Linked DNA regions of Homo sapiens. The protein of the gene in region 4 purifies or fractionates together with the protein of the main gene of each other region. This does not show direct contact. Each region holds a gene or a part of one and is shown on either strand. Other genes may lie near its edges. The genes, in order: PTER, LRP5, FAT1, LIPH, RTEL1, CEP164 and LRRC41.

Region 1 (4,114 bases), on a different chromosome or scaffold from region 4:
AAGGAGAAACTTCCCGCACCCGTGGCACAGGGAGGCTTAATTGGTTCTCCTGTGGTTTATAAGAAAAGCTTTGATCAGGTGCGGTGGCTCACACCTGTAATCCCAGGACTTTGGGAGGCTGAAACAGGTGGATCACCTGAGGTCAGGAGTTCAAGACCAGCCTGGCCAACATGGCAAAACCCCGTCTTTACTAAAAATACAACAATTAGCCGGGAGCAGTGGCACACACCTGTAGTCCCAGCTACTCGGGAGGCTGAAGCAAGAGAATCACTTGAACCCGAGAGGTGGAGGTTGCATTGAGCCGAGATCACGCCACTGCACTCCAGCCTGGGCGACAGAGGGAGACTCTGTCTCAAAAAAAAAAAAAAAAAAAAAATCTCTGAAAATACTTCTGACCTCTTAGAAGTAGATTCATGGACACATGATAGTGCTTTTTTTTTTTTTTTTTTTTTTTTTTTGTATTTTTAGTAGAGATGGGTTTTCACCATGTTGGCCAGGCTGGTCTCAAACTCCTAGCCTCAAATGATCCACCCACCTTGTCCTCTCAAAGTGCTAGGATTACAGACGTGAGCCACCACACCCAGCCACATATTAGTGCTTTTTGTTTTTTGAGATGGAGTCTTGCTCTGTCACCCAGGCTGGAATGCAATGGCACGATCTCAGCTCACTGCAACCTCCACTTCCTGGTTTCAAGTGATTCTCATGCCTCAGCCTCCCGAGTAGCTGGGATTACAGGTGCCTGCCACCACCCCCAGCTAATTTTTGTTTTGTTTTTGTTTTTGTCTTTTGAGACAGAGTCTCACTCTGTTGCCCAGGCTGGAGTGCAATAGTGTGATCTCAGCTCACTGCAACCTCCGTCTCCCAGGTTCAAGCAATTCTCTTGCCTCAGCCTCCCAAGTAGCTGGGATTACAGGCACCCACCACTATGCCCAGCTAATTTTTCGTATTTTTAGTAGAGATGGGGTTTCGCCATGTTGGCCAAGCTGGTCTTGAACTCCTGACCTCAGGTGATCCACCCACCTCAGCCTCCCAAAGTGCTGGGATTACAGGTGTGAGCCACCACACCCAGCCATTTTTGTATTTTTAGTAGAGACGTGGTTTCACTATGTTGGCTAGACTGGTCTGGAACACCTGACCTCAAGTGATTCACCCACCTCGGCCTCACAAACTGCTGGGATTGAGCCACCGCACCCTGCCACAAAGTAGTGCTTTAATCCTCACATCGTGGAGTTGCCAAAGTAATAGAAATATCAGCATGGATAAAAAGCCAATAAGACAATGACTGTCTAATGTTCCCAACTCATCTCCACGCCAATTTCCGATCCGAAACGATCCCTTACATTTCTCTAGGTCCTTCATTCCTTTCATGCAATGTCTAATGGGGTATATTTTTCCTTCATTCCCTTCATGCAATGTCTTCCTTCCCTTCATGAAATGTCTAATGGGGTATATTTTTCCTTCACTTTTTTTTTCCCATATTGTTTTCTGCTAGGATGTTTTTATTCCTTCTTAGCTCTCTGTGTGATTGGATCTCTACAGTGGTATTTTGGGGTTACCTTAGTGCATCTCTTTTTACTTGTTATAATGCAAATTTCTTGATATAATCTACTCTTGCTCTGTACTCTACGCTTGTCTGTAGCCTGTACTTGTCTTACATTTCTCTCCTTTCCCTTTCATTTACATAATCTTACATCCTAAAATAGTTACATTCTTTATATGACATCTATTGAAATGAGAAGATATCCATAAAATTTATCATAAAATAATAAATTTTATTTAAAAAATAAGCACTCCAGAGCATAAATATCTGTATGAGTATTGTGCCTTCAAGAAAATGTGGGAATGATATTCTTTAAAGGCTTTAGAATTAATTTTAGAACCACTTTACAATCTTCACAAGAAAATCACCCTGCTACCACAAGGCAAAGCCTCATGTGTTACCCAGATTAGCATTACTCACCTAATTCACCAGACCTGAGGCCAGATTTCCTTTAATAGTTTTCACAGTTCATAGCAGTCTTTAGAGGATGAAAATTTACCCCATTAAGGATTCTCAAAATAGTGTGGGGGCATCTTCTGAACACAGTTCTGAGGGAGAATTCCAAACTTGCTCTGGAATAATGGAAGCATCATTAAACTAAGTCTGTAGTACCCAAGTACTTTAGAGGGGAAAACTCCTTTTTAGATGAGTAAGTTCTGTTATTTCTAGTAACAAATTGAACTTACTGTTTTATACTCACATCATTAAGAGCCATTTCAGAAGTGTCTGTTACTCGACTTCAACTATGTTCTTGTTCTTGTACATTGTGTGCTTAAAACTTCTAGTATGTACATGTGGAAAATGGGCTCTTCATAATAACAGTTCATCTGTCGCATTGTTTCTAGGACTATTCTTGATAAGAAAGAGCTCTTGGAGTTTGCTCAACTTGGCTGCTACTTGGAATATGATCTCTTTGGTACTGAACTACTTCATTACCAACTCGGCCCAGATATTGACATGCCTGATGATAACAAAAGAATTAGAAGGTAAATATGGTAAAGCCTCTCATAGCATTCCCTTTCCCTAGCCCTTTTTGATTGTCATATCTAGGGAAGTATTAGCAAAGATTCAGAAAACAGTAAGCAGGCCGAACCACAGACTTGCAGAGAAAAATATATCTATGCTGTTTCAGGGAGAAAAATCTCTCTATATTATTTTAAGGAGAAAATGAGTCATCCTAAGTAGGCTAAAGCTTAGCAGAGCCTTAGAAGTTCAGTGCAGATGGGCAGCTGACAGGAAACACAGATAATACCCAACCCCTGCCATGAAAATCAGAGAACAAAAGACATTTTCCTCTATTTACCCCTAATGAAATAAGCTGTTCCTCTCTCAGGTTGACCACACTAAAGCCATAACTTCCTACAAGTAATATTTGAAATGCTTTATCAAAAGTTTTCATTAAAAAGGTGATTTCAAGTTAAATGCTAAAAGTATAAGGTCTAAAGACTAAATATTATGTAAAATGAATGCAACCTTCCAAAACTGTATAATGTGTGATGCTGGCAGATAATTGTAGGAGTCATTCTTTGTAATCAAGTAGAAAATTTTAGGCGTCAATGATAGCTACCTAGTTTGGTCTTGGTCACATGGTGATAAGAAGATTGAATGAACCAAGTTAGAATACCTAGGAGGAGAAATAAATTGGAGATTGACAAGGAAGGCTTTCGTTTGGGAATATCTAAGTGTTGCTACCCAGTGAAGCCCTAAGATATGGTTTGTATGTGATAGTTGAACCGTGGGAATGAATGACATCACTCAGAGAAGAAGATGAGGACAGAGACCTGGGGACAGAGACATTTAAGGAATGGAGTAGGAACCGTTTCTCAAGGAAAGGTCGAGGAGAAGTTTTCAAAGTGATAACATGAGAGATATATATTCTTATGGAAGTCAGTAGAGAGGAAGTCTCAGGGCAGAAGGGCTTGAATGCCGGTAATAAGTGACAAATATCAAGGGAAATAAAGACTGAAAAGCATCCATTGGATTTCACAATTAGGAGGCTCACATTTTATAAACAGAGTGCAATCTCAGTGGAAAAGGCTTGAGAAATGGGTGGGCCGTGAGGAAGAGGAGAGAGGATGTTGAGGTGACTCTTTCAAGAAGCGTGGCAGTGGAGGGAAGCAAGGAGATGGGTCTGGAGTTACAAGTCAATAAAGGATCAAGGGAAGCTTCTAGTAAGAGTTGAGCAATGTTTATGTGACTTAAGAGCAAAAGCAGAGACAGAGCCAGAGAGAATGAGTCCAGGGAAGTGGTGCCCATTCCACAGGGTTACTATAGAATTGACATGAAATAATGTTTTCCAAGTTTTTGTCTGAGTGTCTGGTGCAGAATATGGAAGTGTTCAATAGATGTTGACTTTAAAAACTCTGGATAGATAAGAAATATAGAGCAAGGTTCCTAAGGCAACAAATAGATGGAATCTGGGGAACAAATAGAAAGTCGGTTGAAAGGATGCTTTCTCCATGGAAATGAGAGGGCATGACACAGCGATGGGGTGAATGCAAACAGAAGTCTTAGTGAGGGAAACAGGAGACTGAGGACACATGGCCACATGTCCTCTAGTGTCTCTGTGAGGTG
Region 2 (4,114 bases), on a different chromosome or scaffold from region 4:
TCACCTTCTCGGCAGATGTCCGAAACTGTCCGCATTGAACACACTCCTCATCTCCCTCTGACAGCCACCATTCTACTTTGTATCTCTCTCTGCCTTCTCTAGGTACCTCATGTAAGTGGAATTATACCAATATTTGCCCTTGTGTGACTGGCTTCTTTCATGTGACATGGTGTCCTCAAGGTTCATCTGTGTTATAGCCTGTGTCAGAATTTCCTTCCTTAAAGCCTGAATAATAACCCGTTGTAAAGGCTGGGCGCGGTGGCTCACACCCTCTAATCCCAGCATTTTGGGAGTCCGAGGTGGGCAGATCACTTGAGGTCAGGAGTTTGAGACCAGCCTGGCCAACATAGTGAAACCCTGGCTCTACTAAAAGTACAAAATTAGCTGGGTGTGGTGGCGCGCACCTGTAATCCCAGTTACTCAGGAGGCTGAGGCAGGAGAATCGCTTGTACCCGGGAGGCAGAGGTTGCAGTGAACCAAGATTGTGCCTCTGCAGTCCAGCCTGGGTAACAGAGTGAGACTTCCTGTCTCAAAAAAAAAAAAAATCATCGGATGGATGGACGGACCACTTCTTGTTATTTATCCATCCACGGGTGCTAGGTTTCTTCCACCTTTGGTTGTCGTGAATAAGGCCACTATGAACATTTCCTTCCGTGGTGAAGGTTTTGTACTAGTGAGGAAAAGGCGTGTTTGTGGTGTTGCATAGGATTCTGGTAAGAAAGTTTGCACTAACCATAAGTATTTGTACTACATTAAAATGAAAGCTCAGGGGCCGGGCGCGGTGGCTCACGCCTGTAATCCCAGCACTTTGGGAGGCCAGGGCGGGCGGATCATGAGGTCAGGAGATCAAGACCATCCTGGCCAACATGGTGAAACCCCGTCTCTACTAAAAATACCAAAAAACTAGCCAGGTGTGGTGGCGGGCACCTGTAGTCCCAGCTACTTGGGAGGCTGAGGCAGGAGAATGGCGTGAACCCGGGAGGCGGAGCTTGCGGTGAGCCGAGATCGCTTCACTGCACTCGAGCCTGGGCAACAGAGCAAGACTCCGTCTCACGCAAAACTCTGTCTCACGCAAGACTCCGTCTCAAAAAAAAAAAGAGTTCAGGGTTTATGAAACTGGCCAGCCGCGTAAAGTTTGCTGTGTTGTTTTTGTGCCCGGGAGGAGTGTGGCCAGGGTGTCACGTCACACAGTACACGTTTCTCAGATGGTGGTTCTCCAGACTGCTGTCCCAAAGTCTGTTTTTGCATCTGGTTCCCACAGACCCACCCTCCACGGTGAGCCTGATTTTGGCCAGGGTAGCTGGAATCTTGCTTGTCTTTCAGCCCGGCAGCTGTACCAGTCCAGGGTCCACAGCTAGTGGCTTTTAGGAAGGAATTTGTTCAGTTGGCTTTGACACATGGCCCCCTAGGGTCCACAGCTCTGTAGTGATGTGGATGTTGTTATCTACAAAGACACATGATCCTTCGTGTCCAGATGAAAGTGATGATGTCTTTGCAGCTGCCCAGCAAGGCTGTGTGTGTGTGTGTGTGTGTGTGTGTGTGTGTGTGTGGTGTGTGTGTGGTGTGTGTGTGTGTATGGGGGAGGGAGGCACCCTTTCCATCTGGGGGTGTGTGTGTGTGGGGTGTGTGTGTGTGTGTGCGCGTGTGTGTGGTGTGTGGTGTGTGTGTGTGTATGGGGGAGGCACCCTTTCCATCTGGGTCCAAGAGACTGGGCCTGGGGAAGACGCTTCTTTTTATCTACTTAGAGACTTTGTTTTATTTGTATTTTTTTGAGACAGGGTCTCACTCTGTCACCCAGGCTGGGGTATGGTGATATGAGCATAGCTCACTGCAGCCTCGGCCTCCCAGGCTGAAGCGATCCTCCCACCTCAGCCTTCTGAATAGCTGGGACTGTAGGCGTGCGTCACCATACTGAGCTATTGTTTTTTTTGTTTGGTTGGTTTAATTTTTTTTGATACAGATGGAGTCTTGCTATGTTGCCCAGACTAGTCTCAAACTCCTGAACTCAAGTGATTCTCCCACCTCAGTTTCCCGACATTCTGGGATCACAGGTGTGAGCCACTGCTGTCTCCCTGTTTTATTAACTGCTGAAAGACCTAGATAAAGAAAGTCTGAAAAGACTTACTATCAGAGCACCATCCTAAGATGATTCCCTCTGACTCAATGGAGAGGGAGGGGAGCTTTTCCTTCAGGCCTGGGTGGCAGGAGCCCAGGTGCTCCAGGCCCCATTTGCCCCAGGCCAAATCACTCGGGAACTTGGATGCAGCTGTCTTTCAGGGTAACCCAAAGGAACCAGATCCCCGCAGGCAGTAGGCTTCTGGGCTGTCCTCTCCTCCTACGTCAGCTCAGTAAGAGCCCTTCGAAGGGATGCTGTGTCGGAGGCCCCAAAAGCCCAGGCTCATCCCTGAGATGCACAGGGTGGGCTGGGCTTAGGCAGCGCTCGAGCATCTCCTGGACGGTGACCCCAGAGAGTGTGGAGACGGAGAGTCCTTGAGAGTCACTGAGAGACGTGGCTGCCCTGCCTTCCCAAGAGGGGCTCTGAGTCATTCCCCACACTCACCTGCCCCTACCCACCCTCACCTGGCCCCCAGCCTCACCTACCCCCACATCTGTACCGATCCCTTTACCCGCACCTTCCCTACCCACCCTCACCTCCCCTGTACCTTCACCTCCCCCACTCACCCGCCCCTGCACCCTCACCTGTCCCCCACCTTCACCTAACCCCCACCCTCACCTGCCCTCCCCTCACCTGGCCTCCTTCCGTTGGGGAAGGGGTTGTAAGGGGCGGCCCCCAAACTGTCTGTCCTGGTGCCCTGCAGAGAAAACAGTACGTGAGGGCCGCAGTCCAAAAGCTTGAGTCCTGGAAGGTGGAGGAGACAGGGATGTGTTGGGAAGGGCCCCATGGTCTTGGATCCCTTCTCGACTGTCAATGGGGCCTTCATGGGAGCGCCAGTCTAGTGATGCACAGCTGGGTGCCCGGCGGGTGGCTGAGGAGGCCTAAAGTCCGAGGCGGCAAGAGCTCTTCCAGAGGCTGTTGTCCTAATCGCTCTGGCATACTCAGGCGGGCACGTAGTTAGGAGCTGATTGGAGAGGAGAGACCCCCACACCAATACTGGGATTTGACTTTCAGGCTAAACTTGAGAAGTGTGGCCTCTGCTGTCCTGCCAGAGCTCTCCAGCCAGTGCCCAGGGCTCTCCAGCCAGTGCCCGGGGGTCTCCACCAGTGCCCGGGGGTCTCCGCCAGTGCCAGGGGTCTCCGCCAGTGCCCAGGGGTCTCCGCCAGTGCTCAGGAGTCTTGGTTTCTTTGTCTTACAGCCCTTTGTTTTGACCTCTCTGAGCCAAGGCCAAAACCCAGACAGGCAGCCCCACGACCTCAGCATCGACATCTACAGCCGGACACTGTTCTGGACGTGCGAGGCCACCAATACCATCAACGTCCACAGGCTGAGCGGGGAAGCCATGGGGGTGGTGCTGCGTGGGGACCGCGACAAGCCCAGGGCCATCGTCGTCAACGCGGAGCGAGGGTAGGAGGCCAACGGGTGGGTGGGGGTGCTGCCCGTCCAGGCGTGCCCGCCGTGTCTTCTGCCGAATGCCAGCCTCTCACAGGCTGGGGAGACTTTCCACCCTGGGGATCCAATGGGTGGCTTTCCAGGGTCCCAAAAGCAAACACAGGCTCTTTCACAGCCCCTCCAGGAAAGCAGAAAGCCCCAAGGGCTGGAAGGGAAGGGGGAGCTCTGCTGAGAGGTTACAAGGCAGCGCTGGCCGACGGGAGTTGCAGTTGATAGGTTTTGTATCATCCTTGTTAAACTTGAACCCTGTGCAGAAATCCCTTCCACGGCATGGGGGCTGCCTGTTGACTCGCTCCTGTTCCACCACAGGGAGCTCCTGGGCTTCTTCCTCCCAGAGGCCCCCGACGCTCCCACCTGTTGGTCGTCAGAGCTTCTGGTTGGTGGGAAGGCACCCAGGACCTTGAGGTCTCCAGAGAGAAAAGCCAGGGAAAGAGGGAGACCGAAACCCATGTGACATGAAACTCAGGCTCCAAACTGAGCACGGGAACGTTTGGGGACAGGAGCGCGATGGCCTTCCTCAGATAGCTGGGGGGCTGGCATGAAGAC
Region 3 (4,114 bases), on a different chromosome or scaffold from region 4:
TGTGTGTGTGTCATCTTCTCATGGAGGGGCCCAGGGTGACAGGTTGTTCGATGCCCTGAAGATAGGAGACATTCTGTGAACAACTGGTTGTTGACAGCAGTGGTGATAAAACATTGATATAGTTGGTAAAGTTTGCTTCACTGACTTAGAGAGGAAAAATGCTGTTTGACATCAGGCTGCTGAATTCTGGTTTTTCTTTTGTAAATTGCCTTTCTTTGGGGCTTATGTTGCTGATAAGTATTATACTTGATATAATTATTTTAATACTTTTAAGTAGTTACATAGAGCGAAATGAGACAATAAACCCTTACATTATGTAGGGAGTGAACTTAACCATTCTTATACAGAAATAATATAATTTCAGGATACATTTTGAAATGAGATTACAAGCTGTTCTTATGGAGCGCCATGTAAAACCACTGCTGGTTTTTGTTTTTTTCTGAATTAGTTGTCAGAAGCTTTGCATTCTCACAATACTGTAGGGGCATTATGTTTGCCAGCTTTTGATCATTTAATTCATTGTATGTAAGTAAATGTAAACAATGTTCATTAATTTTTAACAGTTGCTTATATTTGCCTTAACGATTTAAATATAAAAATATAACTTAGTTGTTACAGTTAGTAGCCTTTCATTTGATACTCATGAAGATTTTTGAGTCGTTTAAATATGAAAGAGAGGACCTTGTCGTTCAAAAATGAAAAGGAAGTTTTTGTTAAGCTTAATAATTCTAGACATGTTACAAGAATGTTGATACTTATATTGGAAAACATGAAAAACATCCCAAACCGTTGCATTTATTTATATTCCATGTGTATGGAAAATATTTTTTTAATGAGAAGTTTAAAACAATGTACACACTTTTGCTTGTTTTATTTCCCCAAGGTAACGATTCTGATTTCTTCTGTTTCAGATTCCCGACAGTTAAGCAATGGGGAGACATTTGGCTTTGCTCCTGCTTCTGCTCCTTCTCTTCCAACATTTTGGAGACAGTGATGGCAGCCAACGACTTGAACAGACTCCTCTGCAGTTTACACACCTCGAGTACAACGTCACCGTGCAGGAGAACTCTGCAGCTAAGACTTATGTGGGGCATCCTGTCAAGATGGGTGTTTACATTACACATCCAGCGTGGGAAGTAAGGTACAAAATTGTTTCCGGAGACAGTGAAAACCTGTTCAAAGCTGAAGAGTACATTCTCGGAGACTTTTGCTTTCTAAGAATAAGGACCAAAGGAGGAAATACAGCTATTCTTAATAGAGAAGTGAAGGATCACTACACATTGATAGTGAAAGCACTTGAAAAAAATACTAATGTGGAGGCGCGAACAAAGGTCAGGGTGCAGGTGCTGGATACAAATGACTTGAGACCGTTATTCTCACCCACCTCATACAGCGTTTCTTTACCTGAAAACACAGCTATAAGGACCAGTATCGCAAGAGTCAGCGCCACGGATGCAGACATAGGAACCAACGGGGAATTTTACTACAGTTTTAAAGATCGAACAGATATGTTTGCTATTCACCCAACCAGTGGTGTGATAGTGTTAACTGGTAGACTTGATTACCTAGAGACCAAGCTCTATGAGATGGAAATCCTCGCTGCGGACCGTGGCATGAAGTTGTATGGGAGCAGTGGCATCAGCAGCATGGCCAAGCTAACGGTGCACATCGAACAGGCCAATGAATGTGCTCCGGTGATAACAGCAGTGACATTGTCACCATCAGAACTGGACAGGGACCCAGCATATGCAATTGTGACAGTGGATGACTGCGATCAGGGTGCCAATGGTGACATAGCATCTTTAAGCATCGTGGCAGGTGACCTTCTCCAGCAGTTTAGAACAGTGAGGTCCTTTCCAGGGAGTAAGGAGTATAAAGTCAAAGCCATCGGTGGCATTGATTGGGACAGTCATCCTTTCGGCTACAATCTCACACTACAGGCTAAAGATAAAGGAACTCCGCCCCAGTTCTCTTCTGTTAAAGTCATTCACGTGACTTCTCCACAGTTCAAAGCCGGGCCAGTCAAGTTTGAAAAGGATGTTTACAGAGCAGAAATAAGTGAATTTGCTCCTCCCAACACACCTGTGGTCATGGTAAAGGCCATTCCTGCTTATTCCCATTTGAGGTATGTTTTTAAAAGTACACCTGGAAAAGCTAAATTCAGTTTAAATTACAACACTGGTCTCATTTCTATTTTAGAACCAGTTAAAAGACAGCAGGCAGCCCATTTTGAACTTGAAGTAACAACAAGTGACAGAAAAGCGTCCACCAAGGTCTTGGTGAAAGTCTTAGGTGCAAATAGCAATCCCCCTGAATTTACCCAGACAGCGTACAAAGCTGCTTTTGATGAGAACGTGCCCATTGGTACTACTGTCATGAGCCTGAGTGCCGTAGACCCTGATGAGGGTGAGAACGGGTACGTGACATACAGTATCGCAAATTTAAATCATGTGCCGTTTGCGATTGACCATTTCACTGGTGCCGTGAGTACGTCAGAAAACCTGGACTACGAACTGATGCCTCGGGTTTATACTCTGAGGATTCGTGCATCAGACTGGGGCTTGCCGTACCGCCGGGAAGTCGAAGTCCTTGCTACAATTACTCTCAATAACTTGAATGACAACACACCTTTGTTTGAGAAAATAAATTGTGAAGGGACAATTCCCAGAGATCTAGGCGTGGGAGAGCAAATAACCACTGTTTCTGCTATTGATGCAGATGAACTTCAGTTGGTACAGTATCAGATTGAAGCTGGAAATGAACTGGATTTCTTTAGTTTAAACCCCAACTCGGGGGTATTGTCATTAAAGCGATCGCTAATGGATGGCTTAGGTGCAAAGGTGTCTTTCCACAGTCTGAGAATCACAGCTACAGATGGAGAAAATTTTGCCACACCATTATATATCAACATAACAGTGGCTGCCAGTCACAAGCTGGTAAACTTGCAGTGTGAAGAGACTGGTGTTGCCAAAATGCTGGCAGAGAAGCTCCTGCAGGCAAATAAATTACACAACCAGGGAGAGGTGGAGGATATTTTCTTCGATTCTCACTCTGTCAATGCTCACATACCGCAGTTTAGAAGCACTCTTCCGACTGGTATTCAGGTAAAGGAAAACCAGCCTGTGGGTTCCAGTGTAATTTTCATGAACTCCACTGACCTTGACACTGGCTTCAATGGAAAACTGGTCTATGCTGTTTCTGGAGGAAATGAGGATAGTTGCTTCATGATTGATATGGAAACAGGAATGCTGAAAATTTTATCTCCTCTTGACCGTGAAACAACAGACAAATACACCCTGAATATTACCGTCTATGACCTTGGGATACCCCAGAAGGCTGCGTGGCGTCTTCTACATGTCGTGGTTGTCGATGCCAATGATAATCCACCCGAGTTTTTACAGGAGAGCTATTTTGTGGAAGTGAGTGAAGACAAGGAGGTACATAGTGAAATCATCCAGGTTGAAGCCACAGATAAAGACCTGGGGCCCAACGGACACGTGACGTACTCAATTGTTACAGACACAGACACATTTTCAATTGACAGCGTGACGGGTGTTGTTAACATCGCACGCCCTCTGGATCGAGAGCTGCAGCATGAGCACTCCTTAAAGATTGAGGCCAGGGACCAAGCCAGAGAAGAGCCTCAGCTGTTCTCCACTGTCGTTGTGAAAGTATCACTAGAAGATGTTAATGACAACCCACCTACATTTATTCCACCTAATTATCGTGTGAAAGTCCGAGAGGATCTTCCAGAAGGAACCGTCATCATGTGGTTAGAAGCCCACGATCCTGATTTAGGTCAGTCTGGTCAGGTGAGATACAGCCTTCTGGACCACGGAGAAGGAAACTTCGATGTGGATAAACTCAGTGGAGCAGTTAGGATCGTCCAGCAGTTGGACTTTGAGAAGAAGCAAGTGTATAATCTCACTGTGAGGGCCAAAGACAAGGGAAAGCCAGTTTCTCTGTCTTCTACTTGCTATGTTGAAGTTGAGGTGGTTGATGTGAATGAGAACCTGCACCCACCCGTGTTTTCCAGCTTTGTGGAAAAGGGGACAGTGAAAGAAGATGCACCTGTTGGTTCATTGGTAATGACGGTGTCGGCTCATGATGAGGA
Region 4 (4,114 bases):
ATGCAGACTCCACCTCCAAAAATCCAAACTTAGTAGATCTGGGAGTGAGATCCTGGAATCTACATCTTAAAAAATTTTTTTGGTTGGTCCTAGGGGCTCACATCTGTAGTCCCAGCACTTGGGGAGGCCGAGGTGGGAGGATCGCTTGAGCCCAGGAGTTGGAGGCTGCAGTGAGCTATGACTGTGCCTCTGAGTAGCCACTGCACTTCAGCCTGGCTGAACAAGACCCTGTCTCAAAAATTTTCCCGCCCTGTCTGTATCTGGAACTTACAGGCACATACCATTGTGCCTGGCCTAGAATCTGCATTTTTAACAATTCCTCAGGGTTTTTCAGCTGCAGGTGGTGAAACAAACATAGGTTTTAAAATATTGTTCTAAATTAAGACTGCTTGACATAAGTATTTTTAAAAGTTACTCTGCTATCGATATTTTGGCCCATAGCAACTGTAAAACTAGATAGATATTTTCCCAGAAAAAATTGTTTAATGCCAAAACCAGAATTATTTCCTCAGATATTTGCAATCCTCTAGAATGATTTGGAACTGTGCCTGTGTGGTGACTCATCTTTCTCTAACAAGTTGGCAAAGGTGAATGAGGGGGTGTGAATGTGCATATTTATGCACATGATTCAGAAATGAGAATGAGAAAATCTGGCATCTCATTTATTTTCTCGGTTGCATCCTAAAGAAACACAGCCAGTGGTTAAAAGCAGGCATGTCCTTCCAATCAAGAGGGCATCCTGCCCATATGCTTCTTGCCTGTCTCCGCCCAGGGTAAAAAAGAAACAAATATTTTCTTTTTTTTTTTTTTTGAGATGGAGTCTCGCTCTGTTGCCAGGCTGGACTGCAGTGGTGCGATCTCGGCTCACTGCAACCTCTGCCTCCCGGGTTCAAGCAATTCTCTGCCTCAGCCTCCCAAGTAGCTGGGATTACAGGCACCCACCACCACGCCCAGCTAATTTTTGTATTTTTAGGAGAGACGGAGTTTCGCCATCTTGGCCAGGCTGGTCTTGAACTCTTGACCTCGTGATCCCCCTGCCTCGGCCTCCCAAAGTGCTGTGATTACGGGTGTGAGCCACCATGCCTGGCAAAACAAATGCTTCACCAGGTTTGACCCTGTCCAACTGTAATCCTTTCACAGCCTGGCTCAGGATGCGGTTTGTTTTGTTTTGTTTTGTTTTGTTTTGTTTTGTTTTTGTTTTGTTTTGTTTCTGAGATGGAGTCTTGCTCTGTCTCGCCCAGGCTAGAGTGCAGTGGCACGATCTTGGCTCACTGTAGCCTCTGCCTCCCAGGTTCAAGTGATTCTCCTGCCTCAGCCTCCCAAGTAGCTGGGACTAAAGGCATGTGCCACCACACCCAGCTAATTTTGTATTTTTAGTGGAGATGGGGTTTCACCATATTGGCCAGGCTGGTCTCGAACTCCTGACCTCAGGTGATCCACCTACCTCGGCCTCCCAAAGTGCTAGGATTACAGGTGTGAGCCACCGTGCTTGACCTAGGATGAGTTTTTTTTTGTTGTTTTTTTTTTCCTTTTATGTGAGACAGAGTCTCGCTCTGTCACCAGGCTGGAGTGCAGTGGCGCGATCTTGGCTCATTGCAACCTCCGCCTCCCTGGTTCTAGCAATTCTCCTGCCTCAGCCTCCCAAGTAGCTGGGACTACCGGTGCCCACCACCACGCCCAGCTAATTTTTGTATTTTTAGTAGAGACAGGGTTTCACCAGGTTGGCCAGGATGGTCTCGATCTCTTGACCTGGTGATTCGCCCGCCTCGGCCTCCCAACATGCTGGGATTACAGGCTTGAGCCACTGCGCCCGGCCCCAACTCATTTTCTAATACGAGGAAGGCAAAGTTTCTGGCCTAAAAAAACTTCAGATTTTTATTTCTTGGACTTTTGGAAATTCCTTCAGAACAGTGTCTTCAGGCAAGCATAAGAGTGTGCTCAAGCATAGGTTACTGTGAACATTTTGGCATCAACGGCATCAACGTGTAATGAGCTTGTATCCCAGACAGTAACATCCATTGCCAAGCATGCAGAATACTTGAAAATGTATCTGTTAATCTTTATCTGGGTCTCAGTAAATACTTTCTTTCTTTCTTCTTCTTTTTTTTTTTTTTGGAGATGGAGTTTTGCTCTTGTTGCCCAGGCTGGAGTGCAGTGGCGCGATCTCGGCTCATTGCAACCTCTGCCTCCCAGATTCAAGCAATTCTCCTGCCTCAGCCTCCCAAGTAACTGGGGATTACAGGTGCCTGCCACCATGCCCGGCTAATTTTTTGTATTTTTAGTAGAGACGGGGTTTCGCCATGTTGGCCAGGCTGGCCAGGCTGGTCTCAAACTCCTGAACTCAGGCAATCCACCCTCCTCAGCCTCCCAAAGTTCTGGGATTACAGGCGTGAGCCACCGTGCCCTGCCTTCAGTAAATACTTTCAGGCAGCATCAAGTCAGTAAACCTGACTGTGGACCTCTGTTCTAAAGAAGTTATTAATATACATCTATGTCACGTTTGGGGATGGGGTGGAGGGGAAGAAAGCTCAAGCACACCTTAGAAACCAAAACTCGAGATAAAAAAGCAGTATGAGTCAGGGCTGTTTTACTTCCTGACTGGGCACTACACGTCAAGGTTAATTTCATGTAGGACGTGAAATTGACATGAAATTCTGTCATGTCCTACATGAATTTCACTTCTACATGTCCTACAGAATTTCACTTCTGTAATGTAGGTTTGGAGGTCAGTGGACCAAAGGGTCCAAGGCACCTTCATCAAGGTCTGAGATGGGTCTGAGATACCTTCTTTTTTTTTTTTTTGAGACGGAGTCTTTCTGTCACCCAGGCTGGAGTGCAGTGGTGTGATCTCGGCTCACTGCAACCTCCGCCTCCCGGGTTCAAACAATTCCCACCTTTGCTTATTGACTATCGTAGAATCTCAGAATTTCCTCGCCTCTGTCCATAATTCTGTCTTCTTTTTTCACAGATGCCTCTTTGGATATGAATGAGGAGTCTCCTCTCTTTGAAGAGGGTTTTCTCCAGTCAGAAATATGGGAAATAAAATTAATTCCTCCAAAATGAGGTAGAAGAAGCCAGAGCTGAGTGTGTAGCTGAGACAGCACAGGCTTTTTTTGTTTTGTTTTTTGTTTGTTTTTAGACAAGTTCTTACTCTGTTGCCCAGGCTGGAGTGCAGTAGTGTGATCGCAGCTCACAGCTCACTGCAGCCTTGATTTCCTGGGTGCAAGCCACCTTCTGCCACAGGCTCAGTGTAGCTGGGACCACCAGCATGTGCAACCACGCCCAGCTAACTTTTTGATTTTTTCTAGAGACAGGGTCTCACCTTATTGTTCCAGGCGGGTCTCGAACTCTTGGGCTCAAGTGATCCTCCTACCTTGGCCTCCAAAAGTGTTGGGATTACAGGCGTGAGCCACAGCACCCAGTGGGAAATTTTTTTTTTTTTTAAAGAGATGGGTGTTGCCATATTGCCCAGGCAGGCTTTGAACCCTGGACTCAAGTGGTTTTCCTGCCTCAGCCTCCCAAGTAGCTGGGACTATATAGGCCTGCACCACCATGCCCAGCTTTAGAATTTTTTTTTTTTTTTTTTTTGAGACGGAGTCTTACTCTGTCGTCCAGGCTAAGAGTGCAGTGGCACAATCCTGGCCCACCACAACTGCCACCTGCTGGGTTCGAGCGATTCTCCTGCCTCAGCCTCCCGAGTAGCTGGGATTACAGGTGTGCGCTACCACACCCGGCTAATTTTTGTATTTTTATTTATTTTTATTTATTTATTTTTGAGACAGAGTCTCACTCTGTCACCCAGCCTGGAGTGCAGTGGCTGGGTCTCGACTCACTGCAAACTCTGCCTCCTGGGTTCAAGAAATCCTCCTGCCTCAGCCTCCCAAGTAGCTGGGATTACAGGCATGTGCCACCACACCCAGCTAATTTTTTTTTTTTTTTGTATTTTTAGTAGAGATGGGGTTTCACCATGTAGGCCAGGCTGGTCTCAAACTCCTGACCTCAGGTGATCTGCCTGCGTCAGCCTCCCAAAGTGCTGGGATTACAGGCGTAAGCCACTGTGCCTGGCCTATTATGATTATTTTACAGATGCAAAGCTGAGGCCCAGAGAGGTTAG
Region 5 (4,114 bases), on a different chromosome or scaffold from region 4:
CCCGTGACAATCACACCACGGCCATTCGTGTCTGAGAAGTCCAGCCCCTCGCTGGCCTAGGGGACACACCAGGGAGCTGCCTGGGGCCGTGGGGGCTCCTCTCCCTGGTGCCCACACCCAGCCCAGCCACCTTCCCCGAGGCTCCGTCCCCAACCAGGGGTGGGAGGAAGCTCCATCTGTGGGTCAGGACCCCACTTGGGGTCCACAGCTCCCAGACGCCACCTCCAACTCTTGTGGCCAGGAAACTCCCATCCTGCCTGCCCAGGCCCAGAGCAGGACACGCTCCCAGCAGGGCCAGCAGTCGCTCTCGTGGGACCCAAGGAGGGGACCGGGCAGCCCCCAGGGCCCAGAGTCTGCTGGGGAGCCATAAGCACCCACCAGGGAACAGGCAACCAGGTCAGGGCAGAGGGCCCTGGAGAGCTCACCTTGCCCCGGCAGACCGCCAGGAAGGTGGCGCCGGTGGACCCAGGGGCGGCAACCCTTGCATAGTAAGCACTGATGGTCTGGAAGGAAAGTTGGTGAGGCTGAGCCTGGAGCCCCCCCCCAGCCCCTTCCTCCCCCATGAGGGAGACCCAGGTCTCATGCTCCAAGATGAAGGATCGTCCTAGCCAGGAAGGCCAATCGGGTTCTGGAAGCTTCTTCCTGGCACGGATCCCAGGCTGACCCCACGCCTGCTCAGTGCTTCCCAGAAAACACGGGGAACCCCAGGGCCAGGGTGGCCGACTAGGGCTACTCAGACAGGAGGGCCACTGTTACCACACCCACCCGGTGCTGGGGGCTTTGTAAGATAAGAGGCAACACTCAGGGCCAGGAAGGAAACGCAGGAGCCCTGAAGAGGCAGCGGGAGCCGCCGGAGCCCATGGTCAGGGCCAGTGGTCAGCCTTGGGGAAGCTGTGAGAGGCAGGGGAGGCACGAGGGGGCAGCAGGCCCAGAGCCCCGGCCAAGTGCCGACCTCGGAGAAGCTGCCTTTGCTCCTGGGCTCCACAAACAGCGGCTTCAGCGCCTCCATCTTCCTGGCCAAGTCGCGGGCCTGTGGGAGGAAGAGGCAGGGACACGGCAGCCCTGGTCACGCCGCCGATCCGATGAGGGCAAGCAGGAGCTGTGACCACTGCCTGCTTCATGCTCCAGCCCTGCCCTCACCCACCCCGCCCAGAACACAGGGGAGACGCACCCGCCAGAACTCCAGGCTCTTCTCCATGACAGGATAGGAAGGGAAGAAGATCAGGAGCCCATAGGGCACCACGCGGGCGATGTTGCCTGGAAGTGCAGGGGCCGGGGTCAAGGCAGGGGCAGGATGTCTGCAGGGTTCCCTACCAGCTCTTGGGAGCAGGGGTCCAGGATCCAGGATGGGCACAGCTGGGGCATTCAGGGCACTCACCCAGAGCCTTCCCCAGGGAGGATAAGCACTCCTCGGAAAACCTAGAGCCGGAGAGGCCACTGCTCAGGACCTCAGGCCTCAGTGCTCCCCCACCTCCCACCCCAGCAGGGCCCAGGGACAGGCCCTCACCGTCTGTCAAACGCGGAGCTCAACTGGGCTCCATCGGGGCCTCTGGGGACGACCCCCACCCAGATCTGGTGCTTGTCGATGATGTGTGGGTTCTCCAGGCAGACTGGGAAAGGGCTGAGCGTGGCCAGAGGGAGCAGACAGTGGGGAAGTGCACCAGCACCCCTTTAGCCCTCGAGGCCCGAGACCCCCAGCACCCGGCTCATGGGGACCCCCACCACTTCCACCCCGCTGATGTCAGAGGTGTCACCGGTGCTCAGGCCCTGGCAGGGGTGGCCCGTACATCTGCATCTCCAGAGCAAAGGAGGACACCGGGGCCAGCGTGCCGCTGGTAAGGATGAGGGAGCGGACGCCCTGGCGGACCAGCTCGTGCATGCTGTGGCCGGGACTGAAGCACCAGTAGCTCAGCACCTTCCCTGTGGGGCGGGGGGCGGCAGAGGGCACAGAGTGTGAGGACGGGACTGGGGGCCTGACCACCTGCCTCTCTGCCCATCACCCTCTCCACCCACTGGCATCAAGCAAGCGAGCCGCGGGCAGCCACCCAGGCCCACTGTGCAGAAGTCAGAACAAAGGAGGCTGCCCTGAGTGTGAGCCTGCCAGCTTGGGGCCCCTCTGGGGGACAGGGGGTCCTGGGAGTAGGAGGCAGACCCCAGGCAGAGGCTGGGGACACCTGCAGAGAGGTCAGCCCACTCCAACCCTAAACTTCTGCAGAAACTGTGACATGCGGCTCAGGGCAAGAAGCCCACCCCGCCAAGAGCACACGGGAAGGAAGCGCCGGCATCCCGACATTCCACGGCCGCGTGCAGAAGACGGGGTGCGAGTTCCCAGCTCTGCCTGGAAGCAGGACACGTGCACAAGCCTCTGAGTGGCGTCAGCAGTGAACAAGGGCGCCAGCTCAAAGGAAGTTCCTAGAAGGGCTTGACCGACTGGCCACGGCGGCCGTGGCCTGGGGAGGAGGCTGAGTCTGGATGCCGGATGCCGGGAATTCAACACGGCACAAGCAGAACGACTCTGACTGCGATTCGGAGTCAGCAGGGACGAGGCACGTTTCCTTCCTGGGGCTGAGTGTGCCCTGCAATGGGGGAACTTCCCCACCCCCTCCTCCAGGAGCTCATTTCCTACAAACGCCCAGTGCAGGGAGTGGCTGCTTCTGAGAAGTCAAGTGACATCAGAGGTCAATGGAACAAACAGATTCCAGGCCCTTGGAATCTGTGCACCGGCTGCCTCAGGCACGCACTGCCTCCCGCAACCCCAACTGCGTGAGGGGCGCCGGCCTCCCCCCGGGATGGACGCTTCCTGCTGGGAGAGGCCTTGCTGCAGGACCATCACCGAGCGGGGGTCAAGCCACGCCACCCTGACGCCCTCCCAGCCCTTCCCTTCCGGCTCGGCCAGGCAGACCCAACCACAGCAACCGCACAAGGGCTGCTTCAGCCAGGGCCACGTCATGCCACCATGGGTCGGACAGCAGCTGAGAAAGAATGTTCCAGAGAGGGACGAACCAAGCCCAGAGGCAAGGCCCCACTGGAGCACAAGGCAGGGGCAGCAGCTCCCGCAGCTGCAGCCGTGAAGCCCCACCCTGGACACCACGCAGTGGGGGTGGGGCCAGATACACCCCAAGAACCACAGGGCTCCGGACACGGAGCCGAGGGCACACTCACAGACCCCATCCACACAGCGTCCCCGGCAGCACCGACTCGAAGACGCCACGGAGCACAGGAAGCCAAGAAGGCACGTGGGGCCTCGGGGCTGAGCGCACCAGGGGCTTCGGACAACAGGGCCAGCCGGGCCCCCTTCAGATGTGACCCTGAGGCTTGGCCCGGCCAGGCGCTGCGTGGAGGCAGCAGGCAGAGCCGTGCCTCACTGTGGAGGCTCTGTGCTGACGGCCTCGGCATAAACGAGCGTGTCCCAGCAGGGAGGCCTGGCTGGGCTGTGGCTCTGCCACCACCAACCAGGTGACTCTGGGCAGGTCACGGTGCCATCAGGCCATCTCCTACGTCTCTCAGTAACTCCAATCTTCAGAGGGACAGTGAGGAGAATGCTCTGGATTGGCCTGGATATGGAGAAGGTGGCCAGGCCCATGGGGGCAGGAGATCCACGGCTGGGCATGTGCCTAGCCTGTGGCATGGTGGTGCCGGGCACTGCACCCGGGCGGGCGGGGAGCGTGTGGGCCCAGGTCTGTACCTCGCTTTCTGGCTGCAGTGGTGCTCCAGGCATCAGACCGCTGAGCCGTCCTCCGGTGACCAGCATCAGGATGGATGTGCACCTGGAGGGGACAGGACCAGGAGTGTGGAGGCCCCGCCCATGTCCTGGGGGCAGCCCCTTACCTTTTAGGACCAGAAGACCCCCAGCCCCACCTGCCTCCTGGAGGTGGCCCCCACCTTATAGGACTGTAAGGCCCCCAGCCCTGCCGGGGAACAAGGGCTGCCCTCCACCTGCCTCCTGGAGGTGGCCCCTACCTTATAGGACTGTAAGGCCCCCAGCCCTGCTGGGGAACCAGGGCTGCCCTCGGAGGGGTCCACACTGAACACAATCTGAAAGGCAGAGGAAGTGCAGCCCCGTCAGGAGCCTGAGGCCACCCGACTTTCTGCAGCATCAGCCGCATACACAGAA
Region 6 (4,114 bases), on a different chromosome or scaffold from region 4:
AAAATTAGCCGGGCGTGGTGGCAGGCGCCTGTAATCCTAGCTACTCGTGAGGCTGAGGCAGGAGCATCATTTGAACCTGGGAGGCAGAGGCTGCAGTGAGCAGAGATCGTGCCATTGCACCCCAGCCTGGGTGACAAGAATGATACTCTGTCTCAAAAAAAAAGCAAAGAAAAAGTGATTACTTAATGTCTGAATGGCCTTAACTTATATTGCCTGGTGCTGGATATGTCCTTTGGAGCAAGGTAGAATAAACCCTTTTAAATAGGTGAATAGCAGTCATAATAATGTAATGTCTAACATTTATTGAGACCTTAGTATATTTTAAGCACTTTACATGTATTGAATCATATAAGCCTCACAACACATTGTGATGGATATTGTTAGTACTCTCATTTTATAGATGAGAAAACTGAGGCTGTCCAGCTAGTAAGAGGCAGAGCTGGGATTGAAAGCCAAGAATGTTCCAAAGCTTTTGCTCATTACCACTGCGTAATCAACTCTGACATCTTCCACCTTCTCCCCTTTACCTTCTCCAGTCAATCTTTTCTGTGGTCAACCTTCTTTGTAATTGTTGGAGCAGGGTGGAAGAAATAAATATACAGAGAACCCTCATTATGTCTGTGAGTGTATATTCTCTGTTAGTGTGCAGATGTGCAAAACTCTAGCTATGCTGACAAAGTACAGGGCAAGGTAGCCACAATATTGAAGGACTGGGAAACGATATGTACTGAATGGAAGAGAACTGGGAATACTTAGCCTACCTTAGCTAGAGAATCCTAGGGTGTCCCCAGATGAGCAGAAGGCAGACTTGAGATACCAGGGAACATTTTTTTAGAACCTGATTATTGGCTTACTATTAGACCTTCTAATAGTTAAGAATTATCTAACTATGGAATTGAAAATAGAATCTGTAATACTAGCTAAATTTGTGTAACTTTTCTGTATACAGGGACTGTGCTAGGCACTTTATAAGTGTTGTTTCATTTTACTTTCAGGCTTTTTGATTTTTGTTAAGATTGTTTTAATTATACACATGCAGTTATTGAGGCTGAGAGAGGTGAAGCACCTTGCCTAAGGTCATACAGCTGCTAAGTGAGAGAGCTGGGATTTGAATCCAGGTCTTCTGTCTCCAAAGCTGGTACTTTGACCACTATGCCGCCTGTCACTGGAAGCACAGAGAGGAAAATTTTGGCATGGGAAGGAAGGTGGACCAAAACTACTGCGGGTCTTCCTAGCTTCTGAGATTGCTGGTGTATTTTTTTTTTTTTTCAGATAGGGTCTCACTCTGTTGCCCAGGCTGGAGTATGGTGGTACAATCATAGCTCACTGCAGCCTCGAACTCCTGGTCTCAAGTGATCCTCCCACCTCTGCCTCCCCACTTTACACTCTTTATGTAACTCTGTCTTCCTTTCCATCTGATCACATAGCTCCTGCCTCAGCCTTCCGAGTAGCTGGGACCACAGGTGCACGCCACCATGCCTGGCTAATATATATATATATATATATATTTGTGGAGACAGGGTCTTACTATATTGCTCAGGCTGGTCTTGAGCTTCTAGGCTCAAGTGATCCTAGGCCTTGGTCCCCCATAGTATTGGGATTACCGGTGTGAGCCACAACACCCGGCCTATTCCTTGGTTTTATATTAGCAGTTACAGCAGTAACTGAGCTCCGACAGCTTACATAGGCTTATTTTAGGCTTTGTTGGAAAATTCCAGAGGAGGAGACATGGCCCTCAGAAGTTTGTGGTTTAACAGGAGAGGTAAGAAGACACATTTTCATAAAAAAAGTAATATTGGCCAGGCACGGTGGCTCACGCCTGTAATCCCAGCACTTTGGGAGGCCGAGGCGGGTGGATCACCTGAGGATAGGAGGTCGAGACCAGCCTGACCAACATGGAGAAACTGCATCTCCACTAAAAAAATACAGAATTAGCCAGGCGTGGTGGCACATACCTGTAATCCCAGCTACTCAGGAGGCTGAGGCAGGAGAATCGCTTGAACCCAGGAGGCGGAGGTTGCAGTGAGCCGAGATCGCACCATTGCACTCCAGCCTGGGCAACAAGAGCGAAACTCCTCTGTCTCAAAAAGAAAGAAAGAAAAAATAATAATATTGAGAGAAATCTGTCTGGGAACACATGAAAATTATGAGCTCAGTGCTAAGGTGGTTCTGGGTTGACAGGAGAGGATAAAATTGGCTGGGAAGGCTTCCTGGAGGAAACGTGTGAGCCACTCCTTTTTTGCCTGATTCTGAGATTGGTAGGAGATGCATGAGTGCAGTTGGGTGACCCCTCCTAACTCTGGCTCACAGAAGGTCTCAGGCTAGGCAGCAAGTAGATCTCACTGGATTTCATCTCATCTATTGGTAACTGCTACGTAGTGAACAATGTTGAGGGTTCTGAGGCCATGTCTAGGGTGCCATAATTGACTAGTGATGTCCTTCACAGTTTTAGGCCTGGAGGAAAATAGTAGGACATGTCCTATTTGTTTGCCATGGCAGATCTAAGGGCTGCATTCTCATTTATTGATTTATTTTAGAGACAGGTCTTGCCCTGTCACCCAGGCTGGAGTGCAGTGGTGTTATCATAGCTCACTGTAGCCTTGAACTCCTGGGCTCAAGGGATCCTCCCACCTGAGCCCCCCAAGTAGCTGGGACTACAGGTGTGTGTCACCATGCATGGCTGATATTTTTAATTTTTTGTAGAGACGGTCTCACTATGTTGACCCAGCTAGTCTCAAACTCCTGGCTTCAAGTGATCCTCCTGCTTTAGCCTCCCAAAGCCCTGTTATTACAGGTGTGAGCCACAGTGCTTGGCCCAAGGGCTGCATTCTTAGACTTCTCATCCTCTGTTACCACTCCAACTCAGGTTACCATTGCCTCTTACCTAGCCTAGCTCATGGTTTTCTACCTTATTTCTCTGCATCAGCCCTGATTTTCTTCTTTCCAATCTGGCCTCCGCTTTAGGGTGTACTCCTAGTAGCTTCTGGAGTAGTTTTTCAAAATGTGTATCTGGAAAAACTATTTCCTGGCTTCCATTCCTCTCTCTTTTTTGAGACAGGGTCTTGCTCTGTCACTGAGCCTGGAGTGTGGTGGCACAATCAAGGCTCACTGCAGCCTTGACCACCTGGGCTCAAGTGATCCTCCCGCCTCAGTCTCCCCTGTAGCTGGGACTACAGGTATACACCACCATACCTGGCTAATTTTTAATTTTTTTTGTACAGGGTAAGACAGGGTCGTCTTATGTTGCTCACGGTGGTCTTGAACTCCTGGGCTCAAGCGATCCTCCTGCTTTGGCCTCCCAAAGTGCTGAGATTGCAGGTGTGAGCCACTGTGCCCAGCCCTAGTTCTGTTATGATAAAGGGCAAGTCTGCATGGCCTGGCTCCCACTGGCCTCCCCAGCATCCTATCCAACTGTGCTGCTTCTTGCCTCGTGTTGCCTTCTGCTGAAGGACTTTTGCATGCATCTGTTAGAACACGCTTTCCTTTTTTTCTTTGTCTAGTGAATACCTACTCATCATTCAGTTCTCAGTGTAGGCATCATCTAAATCAGGCTTATTTCCTTCAGAGCACTTCCCTCGGTTCTAATTATACATTTCTCTGTGACTGATTGGTTTGTCTCCCTCCCTTCCCAGACGAGCTCAAGAGTAGCAGCAGCTGAATCTGTTTTTAATCACGATTGCATCTCTAGCGCCTAGAAATAAATGCACGTGGTAGGTGCCCAATAAATATTCCTCGAGTGAGTAGATGATCTTTAGTAGCCATCCTGCTACTACATACAGACAAATAGATATGACTTCTGTTCCCACGTTCCTTTTTTCTTTAACTCATTGGCCTTTTGGACCTGTCCTTGCCCACATCTTTTCTAGAGCCTGATAAGGTAAGGAAAGAAGGTAGAATACAACCCACCCATATTTTAATTTTTTTCTGGCAGAACATTTATTTGAATTTGGATGATCCATGAATTCAGATTTCCCAGAGTTTTCCTGATCTTTAAGTAGTTAAATATATCGCCAGGTGCGGTGGCTCCTGCCTGTAATTCCAGCACTTTGGGAGGCCAGGGCCGGTGGATCACCTGAGATCAGGAGTTTGAGACCAGCCTGGCCAATGTGGTGAA
Region 7 (4,114 bases), on a different chromosome or scaffold from region 4:
GAGAGGCGGAGGTTGCAGTAAGCCAAGATTGCACCATTGCACTCCAGCCTGGGTGACAACAGAGACTCCCTGTCAAAAAAAAAAAAAAAAAAGATACAACTATAGAGATAACCAGGAGTAAGAATATGAATGACCACTAAGTAAAATTAAGCCATTGAAGGGTGTTTGCATAAATGAATGACAGGGTCATTTTTGACTGATTTTTTTAAAGAATCAAGACTGCATTTTTCAAAGGATGCTTGGGCTGCAGTGCAGATAATGGATTTGTATGGCAAGAGTAAGGAGTCCGGAGGAACTACTGAAATTAGTTCAGGTAGTGGGTAATGGTAGCTTGAATTAAGGATGTGGAGATAGAGAAATAAATGTATTTAACAAATTGTAAAGATAGGGCTGGGCTTAATGGCTCATGACTATAATCTCAGCACTGTAGGAGGCCGAGGTTGGTGGATCACTTGAGGCCAAGAGTTCGAGACCAGCCCGGCCTATATGGGGAAACCCTGTCCTTACTAAAAATATAAAAATGCATTCAAGTTGGATGTAATGAGTTGGGTGGGGTATTGTGGGTTATGAAGTTGTCATGTCTACTAGCTGGATAAATGGGTCTGGAAGTTCAAGAGAAAGATCTGGGGTAATGTCACATAATGGGGAGTCTTTAGCATAGTTGGCCTTTGAAACCACAGGAATGGATGAAATTGTCCAAGAAGCGTGCATAAAGTGGGAAAGCTCTGAGGAACTCTGAATAAACAGAGGAGGAGAAAACTTTTTTTTTTTTTTTGAGATGGAGTCTCACTCTGTTGCCCAGGTTAAAGTGCAGTAGTGCAGTGGCACGATCTCCAGTCACTGAGTAGCTGGGATTACAGGCGCCCACCATCACGCCTGGCTAATTTTTGTATTTTTAGTAGAGATGGGGTTTCACCATCTTGGCCAGGCTGGTCTTGAACTCCTGACCTCGTGATCCACCCACCTTGACCTCCCAAAGTGCTGGGATTACGGGCGTGAGCCACTGCGCCCGGCCAAGAAAACATTTTTTAAGGTAGTGAAAAAAAATTTAATGAACAGCAGTAAATCCTGCCAAGAAGAGTTACTGAAAAGTATACATTGGATCTAGTAACAAGGAGGACCCTGATGACATAGGTCCTTGCCAGTGCAGTGGTAGGGGTATAAGAGGCTGGAAGGGGCTGTGAGTAAGAGAAGTGGAAACAGTACAGATAACTAAGGTTGTGAAGAACAGGAGATAACAGTTTATTAATATGGCATAGAGGGAGGTGGTGGTGGCAGTTTTTGATGGAGACCTGTTAAAATGCTGATAGGAGAGAGACGGTGGAAAGGAGAGTAGCATAGTTGTTTGAAAGCATGAATCTGCAGTCTGGTTGCCTGGGTTTTGAATCCTAGCTCTATAATTGCTAGGTTATCCTGAGGAAGTCACTTGCCCTCATAGGGTTGTGAGGATTGTTAGATCAAATTATCAAGAATACTTAAAATATGCCAGACACATACTAAGCAGTATATAAAAATTAGTTTGAGAAACAAGCTTCCCTAAGAAGGTAGAATGCTTGTTTCTCAAACTGGTAATTTTTATATACTTTGTTGTGAAGCTCTATGCATCTAGAGCACAGGTGGGAGAATTAGCCTTAGAAAGGATGGTGGTCTCTTCTATTCTGGTAAAGAAGGATGAGTGCAGATGGAGAGTTTATAGGCTGCTTAGCAAGCTAAAGAAACTCATGTGTGATGGCTTCTATTTTCTCTGTGAAGTAGGTGAGGTCATCCCTGAGAAGGGAAAAGGAGAGTTTGGAAGTGGTAGGAATGGGAGCTGATGTTGCAAGCACAGTGAAGGTTCATACGAGGTTAGTGATCATATAGTAACACTGATTTGCATAGTTGTATGATTTGTCTCTAGCAGTGCTCAGCAACCTAGGCGGATTGCTGGATTTAGCCAGAGTTGAGGTTTTGCTAGCTGGTCACAAGCAGGAGGGAAATGAGGACTGAGGACTGCTTTGCAGGTTGTTGGTCTGATAAGAAATTGTGTCCCACACCTTGTCTGGACAGCTACTCTGATATGACTGGTGAGGTGGTGAGGTCAAACTCTAGCCCTGCCTGAGCATGCATATACTATACTGCTCCCACCTGCCCTTGGACTGCCTTCCATATCTAAAATGTATTCATTCTTCAGATTCCAGCTGGCTTGTCTCACTGCCCCTCAGGAACCCCTGCTTTCAACAACTAATCAAGTGTATAGACTTTATGTTCCTCTCTTCTAGCAATGACAGTCTCCCCTGCTATGAGGCATACAAGCCTTCCTCTCTAACCTCCTGATCATACCCCCAATTTGCCCCTCCCACCTCCCTAGAATTAGGCACACAGCTGGTGCTGCTAGGCAATCTAAGCCCAATCCCTGCCACTCCAGGGTGCTCACCATTGTAGGAGAGTGTGAGGCTCTCCAGTGACACCCAGGAGCTCAGCAGGTGGCATAGTGTCAGGGCTGCCTCTGTGGAGAGTGGAACTGTGAATAGCTCCAAGGTGGAGATGCTGCGGAATCTTTGTGAAGCTTCCAGTGCTGGAAGCCCCAGGCAGCTGGGATCTGATCCATCCAAAGCTCCACAAGCCACTTCCCCAATCTCCATCTCTTCGCCATCCTCCTTCTCGCCAGCCACAATAAAAACGAAGTCATACAGGTCTTCAGACTCTGCACCAGGCCCCTGACGGGTGCGAGCACCCTTCTTCCCTGCAGCTCGCTTGAAACGCTTTAGGGGCTTAGGCTGTGGGGCTGAGCTAGCTGGTGCCCGTTTGTATGAGGATGTAGAAGAAGAGGCAGAGGAGGTGGCTGCTGGAGCAGAAGGTGACCGCTTGGTGCCAGGAGCCTCATGGGAGGTGGCTGGGGGGTGCAGCTCCCTCTTAAGGTCTGTTCCGCCTGCTGTCAGGCTCTCCTGTGTGCTCCGGCGTGTTACCCGAGTGGCAGGTGCAGCTCTGGGCATCTGCTTGGCTTCACTCTTACGCCGGCTGGCCATCAGGGCTGCAGCACATCGCTCAGCAGCATCCCGGCGGGGCCGACGTGAGCCCAATAAGAGGGACCCTTCATCTCGGGATGGGGCCCGGCCTCGGGAGGCCTCTCCACAGAGGCGGCAGGGTGGGCCACCAGGCCCTGGTTGCCAGAAGCCAGCACTCATGGTGAGAATAAGGATGAAAAGGGCTGACTCAGGCACAGGCCAGGAGTATAGCGACACTTGACTGACAGCCCCATGGTGAATGAGCTGATGCAACAGCTGCCGAAGTGACTGCTGAGCAGCCACATCAGAGAACAGCAGGTGGCGGAACTTGAGAGTGTGCAGGGAGCTGGCCAGGGTCTCCAGAACCCTGCGGTTGGGCTCAGCCACCAGCTCGGTTGCACCCTGCAGCATGTTACAGATGGTGAGCTGTCGGACATGGCGGGAGCTGTGCAGAAGAGGTGAGAACCGCTGATCACAAAGACGCCTGTCAGAAGACACATCAATGGTCCCACGTAGAACATGGGAAAAAAAGGCCTCCATAAACTTGGCTCGCCAACATGTCACACTCTGAAACGCAGAAAACATGCCAGACAGCCATGATATATCCATGAAACTGTCCAAATTTCCCTCTCTTCCAATAGCACACTATTTACTGAGTCAGGCAACACTACAAATTCATTTAATCTTCACATCTCTGAGGTATGTATTATTATTAGCCCTATTTTACAGGTAAAACCGAGGCACAAAGAGGTGGCCACACAGGTAAGTGGTTGGATTATTTGAACCCTGGAAATCTGGTTCCAGAGACCATGCTTTTATTATAGTGTCTCCACTGAAACACTCACCCCTGTAAGTTCTTCCATGTTTGTTTCTAGAACCTTATCCCAATTTTTTTTTTCTTTTTAAGATAGAGTCTCACTTTGTAGCCTAGGCTGGAGTGCAGTGGTGTGATCTCAGCTCACTGCAACCTCTGCCTCCCAGGTTCAAGTGATTCTCGTGCCTCAGCCTCCAGAGAAGCTGGGATTACAGGCGCCCGCCACCACACCTGGCTAATTTTTGTATGTTTCATCATATTGACCAGGCTGGTCTTGAACTCTAGACCTCAAGTGTTCCGTCCGCCTTGGCCTCCC

What was found.
Region 1: the proteins of LIPH (region 4) and PTER purify together in Homo sapiens (affinity purification with mass spectrometry; 3 studies listed by BioGRID and IntAct, with this or other methods). This does not show direct contact.
Region 2: the proteins of LIPH (region 4) and LRP5 purify together in Homo sapiens (affinity purification with mass spectrometry; 3 studies listed by BioGRID and IntAct, with this or other methods). This does not show direct contact.
Region 3: the proteins of LIPH (region 4) and FAT1 purify together in Homo sapiens (affinity purification with mass spectrometry; 2 studies listed by BioGRID and IntAct, with this or other methods). This does not show direct contact.
Region 5: the proteins of LIPH (region 4) and RTEL1 purify together in Homo sapiens (affinity purification with mass spectrometry; 3 studies listed by BioGRID and IntAct, with this or other methods). This does not show direct contact.
Region 6: the proteins of LIPH (region 4) and CEP164 purify together in Homo sapiens (affinity purification with mass spectrometry; 3 studies listed by BioGRID and IntAct, with this or other methods). This does not show direct contact.
Region 7: the proteins of LIPH (region 4) and LRRC41 purify together in Homo sapiens (affinity purification with mass spectrometry; 3 studies listed by BioGRID and IntAct, with this or other methods). This does not show direct contact.

The regions. Positions count from the first base shown.
Region 1 is NC_000010.11:16,502,635-16,506,748, forward strand, and holds part of PTER (N-acetyltaurine hydrolase), read left to right. Parts: intron 1-2,385; coding exon 2,386-2,526; intron 2,527-4,114. UniProt on the Homo sapiens protein: N-acetyltaurine hydrolase that regulates feeding by catalyzing the hydrolysis of N-acetyltaurine into taurine and acetate. N-acetyltaurine has anorexigenic and anti-obesity effects that are dependent on GFRAL receptor and GDF15.
Region 2 is NC_000011.10:68,420,175-68,424,288, forward strand, and holds part of LRP5 (low-density lipoprotein receptor-related protein 5 isoform 1 precursor), read left to right. Parts: intron 1-3,314; coding exon 3,315-3,523; intron 3,524-4,114. UniProt on the Homo sapiens protein: Acts as a coreceptor with members of the frizzled family of seven-transmembrane spanning receptors to transduce signal by Wnt proteins.
Region 3 is NC_000004.12:186,706,643-186,710,756, reverse strand, and holds part of FAT1 (protocadherin Fat 1 isoform 1 precursor), read left to right. Parts: intron 1-911; 5' UTR 912-929; coding exon 930-4,114.
Region 4 is NC_000003.12:185,545,827-185,549,940, reverse strand, and holds part of LIPH (lipase member H isoform 1 precursor), read left to right. Parts: intron 1-4,114.
Region 5 is NC_000020.11:63,685,444-63,689,557, reverse strand, and holds part of RTEL1 (regulator of telomere elongation helicase 1), read right to left. Parts: intron 4,036-4,114; coding exon 3,961-4,035; intron 3,768-3,960; coding exon 3,686-3,767; intron 1,921-3,685; coding exon 1,788-1,920; intron 1,622-1,787; coding exon 1,508-1,621; intron 1,420-1,507; coding exon 1,379-1,419; intron 1,258-1,378; coding exon 1,172-1,257; intron 1,031-1,171; coding exon 953-1,030; intron 504-952; coding exon 426-503; intron 57-425; coding exon 1-56. UniProt on the Homo sapiens protein: A probable ATP-dependent DNA helicase implicated in telomere-length regulation, DNA repair and the maintenance of genomic stability. Acts as an anti-recombinase to counteract toxic recombination and limit crossover during meiosis.
Region 6 is NC_000011.10:117,330,496-117,334,609, forward strand, and holds part of CEP164 (centrosomal protein of 164 kDa), read left to right. Parts: intron 1-4,114. UniProt on the Homo sapiens protein: Plays a role in microtubule organization and/or maintenance for the formation of primary cilia (PC), a microtubule-based structure that protrudes from the surface of epithelial cells. Plays a critical role in G2/M checkpoint and nuclear divisions.
Region 7 is NC_000001.11:46,282,949-46,287,062, forward strand, and holds part of LRRC41 (leucine-rich repeat-containing protein 41), read right to left. Parts: intron 3,552-4,114; coding exon 2,414-3,551; intron 1-2,413. UniProt on the Homo sapiens protein: Probable substrate recognition component of an ECS (Elongin BC-CUL2/5-SOCS-box protein) E3 ubiquitin ligase complex which mediates the ubiquitination and subsequent proteasomal degradation of target proteins.